2 separate regions of the Homo sapiens genome follow, and region 2 is linked to region 1. A link means that fine-mapping ties the variant in region 1 to the expression of a gene that starts in the linked region. Tissue or cell type: whole blood. Region 1 holds a variant in brackets; the other region holds the start of a gene. All regions are shown on one strand. Distances are from middle to middle.

Region 1 (2,586 bases):
TTGGACAGGCCCTGTATGGGCCACCAAACCCTGTCGAGACAGCAGGGAGGAGGGGGAGCTGGGGGGAGCCAGAACTGCCCGAGTTTCCCACCTGACCATCTGTGTGGACCTTGAATCCTATCTCCCCAGGATACTCAAGGCCTTTGGGGCTCCCAAGCCCCAGGAGGGACCCTAGGCTTTGGGACGTCTGTTCTCGTCACCACTCAGAGAGTGGGGCTCCCATCCAGGAGGTCTCAGCCACTCAAGGGCAGAGGCCTGGCAGGGACTTCCCTGGGGCCGCCCGGAGGGGCCCACAGGGGGACCAAGCTGGGGAGGGCCCTGGGGCTTGGGCTGTTCTTCTCCCAACTCAATGGGCCTCCTTTGCCCCTGGGAGCTGCCAGTGGCCCTTTCTAGGGTCTCTGATCAGTTGGCCCCTTCCAGGTGACATCCACAAAATGGCCAGCGAATGGGCAGGGAGAGACGAGGAGCAGGTGCACGAGATGGTCCTGGAGACGGGCAGGACTCAGACTGCACACAGCCCACACCCGGCATGGACGCGGGCTCACACACAATGCACACCCCTCACTCCAGGAACACACACACACAGACACACACGCTCCCACTGACCCCATAGCACAGGCTAGAAACACACACACACACACACGCTCACACCCACCCCACAGCACAGGCCAGATACCTCCCTCCCCCCACACACACCCACATACTCATTACCCATTTAGCCCACAGCACAGGCCAGACACCCACACAGACACACACCCACGCAGACACACAGACCCACATTACCTGTATGCTCACTCCCATCCACATGATACAGGCCAAACATACACTCACACTGTACAGGCCAGACACACACAGAAACACACATACAGACATACACTTACACCCACCCACCCCACAGCACAGGCCAGACATACACACAGAGACACACACAGACACAAACACACACATGCTCACACCCACCCCACAGCACAGGCCAGAGACACACACACACGTTCACACCCACCCACCCTACAGCACAGGGCAGAAACACACACACACACACAGACATAGACACAGACACACACACACACGCTCATACCCACCCACCCCACATCACAGGCCAGACACACACACCCACATGCTCACACCCGTTTATCCCACAGCACAGGCCAGACATCCACACAAACACACCCACCCACATGATCCATATGCTCACACCCACCCACAGTACAGGCCAAACACACACACTCACAAACACACATGTGGAGAGTATAGGCCAGACACACACATAGACATATACGCGCTCACATCCACCCACCCCACAGCACAGGCCAGACACCCACACAGACACCCAGACACACACACAGACACATGCACACGTGCACACACACATACTTCCCTACCACTGCACTGAGTCGGCTCTTCCTGAGCCCTGTGAGGTTTGGGGCTGGGGTTGGGGGTTGGAGCTGGGTTGGT[C/G]TCCAGGCTGGGCCTCTGGCCTTCAGTTGGAGGTCACTCTCAGGGCTGTCAAGTGGTGATCATGGTCACTGCCTGCACCTGTCTTCTGTCATCACCACCTGCAACAAAAGCCCCCCACTGATGGATGCGTTGTGTGTCCACGTCTGTCCAGCTTGAGCCGGCGTTTCTCTGAGAGATGATACAAGTGCATGTGCCTTCTCCCCCGACACACACATGCAGACGCACACACACGCTCACCCAGGGGAGGGGCTGTGTCATCCTCACTGTCTCCAAGCTGCTCCCAGATGCTGTGTCAGCGGAGAGTTCAGGTGTTCCCTGCTGAGCAGATGCCATAGGGGCACTGCCTCTGGCTTCACCAAATGCACCCATGACCAGGGACACTTTCCTGCACATGAACGTGGTCTCACGTTTGAGCACCGGGACCCAGGGCACCTCTTTTTAGGTTGTCCTCAGCCAGGCACTTCCCTGTCTCCTCTCACATGGACCCTGGTCCTGGCCAAGGTGCAGGGCAGCTACTCTGGCTTTCTGGGCCCCTCAGCATCTGCTGTCTCAGCTTCCACGGGTCCCAAGAGTTCCCCAGGCCCTGACCACAGCCTCTTCCCTGCCCCTCTGGGTCACTTCTGTTGGATGGTCCAAGCCGCTTCCAGCTGGAACCCGAGGGAGGTCTCCCTGCTTCTCAGATCTCCTGGATGGATGTTACCCCAAAGGGGCAGGAGGAAGGCTCAGTGCCTTGTTCCCCTTTGCAATGTTCCAGGGTCCAAGATGGAGGCAGAAAAGGAGATGGAGCAGCTCAGGCTGGTGTGAGCCTGGGGAGATTCCAGAAGCACCTCCAACTAGTAATACAGGAGCGCCTCCAACTGAGGATCCAGCAGCTCCTCCACCTGGGGATCAGCAATTCCTCCACTTGGGGATCCAGCATTTCCTCCATCTGGGGATCCAGCAGTTCCTCTACCTGGAGATCCAGCAGTTCCTCTATCTGGGGATCCAGCAGTTCCTCCACCTGGGGATCCGGCAGTTTCTCCACCTGGGAATCAGCAGGGCCTCCACCTGGGGGTCCACCCAGGGATCCAGTGGCACCTCCACGTGGAGAATCAGCAGCATCTCCCCTAGCAAATAGGGACAGACAGAGGG
Region 2 (2,586 bases), 650 kb before region 1:
ATTAACCTGAGAACTGTGAAAGGAAACTTTTACACATGGTTAAAAAAGTATCATGTTTTAAGTTTTATCTAATTTTTGCTTAAATATATAATACATAAAGGAAAGAAACAATGACTCAGTCGGCCACCCGTACTTTTTTGTTCATTCCATGTTTCCACTAGCCCTTAAGACACTTTAAACTCACACCGAAGGGCCAGTAACATCTCCAATCTCTAAAAAGTTTGCATTAGTAGAAATAACGATTCAAAATAGCACTGGCTTGTCAACGTACACCAATGCAAAAGGCACAGTCCTAACGTCTTTAATGAAACAAGCGAGTGTACCGTCTACTGTGAGAGCAATGACAGTCACGCAGCCTGCGGGAGCCCTGCCACTCGCTCCGTGACCCAGGGTAAGTTACTCAACCCCATTGCGTCTCCCTTTCCTCATCTGTTAAAAATAAAGCAGGGTGGAAATAGCGTTTGCACTCCTCGGGTGGTATGAAGATGGTGCGCGTTCCGTGTGTAAACCCGCTCGTGACCAGCGCTCGGGACGCGTTGGTCGCTATCATTGCCATCCTCCGCCCCGCGTCGTTACTTCGGAGTTACGACAGGGACCTCAAAATTAAAGTCACAACATCCGCGAGGGACTCAATCCTCTCCCGCATCTCCTAACAGCCGGGAATTTGTTTTGAAGGGAGGATAAGAGGCGGCTTCACGCCCACGAAGCGCCACACATTGGCGCTGCCGGGGAGGCGGGGGCCCGCGGCCTCCTCGGCGTCCGGAGCCGGCCCAGCGAGCGGAGGCCCGCCCCGTGCCCAAAGAACAGTCTCCTCCCGCGGGGGGGGCACAACCCGAGCCTCTCAGCCTGCCCCCGCTCCGCAACTCCGGTCCCGGGCTCCGGGCCCTGAGCCTCAGAGCCCCTGGAGCCCCGGAACCCCCGAATCCCAGCCCCCGCACCACAGCCCGCCATTCACGCGCGCGCGCCCGGCCCTCACCAGGTCGATGTGGGAGAAACCGGTGAGCACGAGATTCTTGAGGAGCTCGCAGCCGATGCCGCCCGCCCCCACCACCAGCACCCGGCCCCCGGCCACCGCCTCAGCCAGCTCCCGGGGCAGCCCCCGCGACAGTGCCATGGCGGGACAACCACGAGCCGCGGCGGAGGCGGAGGCGGGAGAACCGAGCCGCGGCCGGAAGCGGGTGGGGGAAGGGCGGCCTGGTTTCCGCTCCTGCGCACTACAGCCTCCGGCAGACACAGGCAGGGCACATCGCGCCGGGGTGTGCTGCAGCCCGCGGGGACCGGCAGGCTCTTGCAAAGGGCTGGCGACCTCCAGCTGAGACCGGCGGTGTTATTCCCACACCAGCATAGGCCCGCCATCAGACCTAAAAAGTCTAAGGGTCGCCTTCTAGCCTGGGGTTTCAACTCCCAGCCAAGACTTCCTTACAGGTTAGAAAACTGATGTCCCTATACGTAAAGAGCTCTTACAAATTAACAAGTGTCACCCCCAAAAAAATATAGGCAAAGGATGTGAACAGGAAACTCACAAAAAATTGGACAATATGATCAATAAGCGTATTAAAATGTAAACCATAAAAGAATCGCTTGAACCCTGGAGGTGGAGGTTGCAGTGAACCAAGATCGCACCACTTCACTCCAGGCTGGGTAACAGAGCAAGACTCCGTCTCAAAAAAGAAAAAAATGTAAACCATGCAAAATGGTAAGATTTTCACCTGCCGGGCGCGGTGGCTTACGCCTGTAATCCCAGCACTTTGGGAGGCCGAGGCGGGTGGATCACGAGGTCAGGAGTTCTGAAACCAGCCTGACTAACATGGTGAAACCCCCATCTCTACTAAAAATACAAAAATTAGCCGGGCGTGGTGGCGTGCGCCTGTAATCCCAGCTACTCGGGAGGCTGAGGCAGGAGAATCGTTTGAACCCAGGAGGCAGAGGTTGCAGTGAGCCGAGATCGCGCCACTGCACTCCAGCCTGGGCAACAGACTCCGTCTCAAAAAAACAAACAAACAAACAAACAAAAAAAAACACCGAAACAGCTGGGGGTGGTGGCACAAGCCTGTAGCCCCAGCTACTCAGGAGGCTGAGGCAGGAGAATTGCTTGAACCCAGGAGGCGGAGGTTGCACCACTGCACTCCAGCCTGAGCAATACAGCGAGACTCTGTCTCAAAAAAAAAAAAAAGTTTTTCACCTACTAAACTGGTAGAAAGAAAAAATAAGTAACACTTATCAAGGGATTGGGAAACAAGCACTCCAACACACTCCAGGTAAAGATTCCAAAGCAAAGCTTCTCTAGAGGGCGTGGTGGCTTGCACCTGTAGTCCCAGCTACTCAGGAGGCTGAGGCAGGAGGATCACTTAAGCCTGAGAGGTCGAGGCTGCAGTGAGCTATGCCCTTACCACTGCACTCCAGCCTGAGAGACAGAGCAAGACCCTGTCTCGAAAAAAAAGAAAAAAAAACCCTAAAATTGTGCACAACTTTTGACTCATTCATTCCAATTCTAGGAAACTGTCCTGTAGCAGTTATCATTGATTTAAAATATATATAAATTTAGTTACAGGGATGGCCATCATGGGAATAAAAATTGGAAAATAC

The links. PIP is the estimated chance that this variant, and not a neighbour inherited with it, causes the effect.
Region 2: UBA2 starts here. The variant in region 1 is fine-mapped to the expression of UBA2 in whole blood (INTERVAL, PIP 0.98).

What each region holds. Positions count from the first base shown.
Region 1 is chr19:33,774,402-33,776,987 of GRCh38, reverse strand. No RefSeq gene overlaps it. Among named protein-coding and RNA genes, the nearest start is that of KCTD15, 21 kb to the left of the region's middle. The variant C/G (reference allele first, on the strand shown) is at 1,456.
Region 2 is chr19:34,426,961-34,429,546 of GRCh38, reverse strand. It overlaps UBA2 (ubiquitin like modifier activating enzyme 2), which reads right to left and starts at 1,166. Exons shown (of 17, transcript NM_005499.3): 1 at 977-1,166. The coding sequence starts at 1,114. It overlaps LOC124904695 (a long non-coding RNA gene), which reads left to right and starts at 1,183. Exons shown (of 2, transcript XR_007067232.1): 1 at 1,183-1,425. RefSeq lists silencers at 669-828, 899-1,008, 1,039-1,278.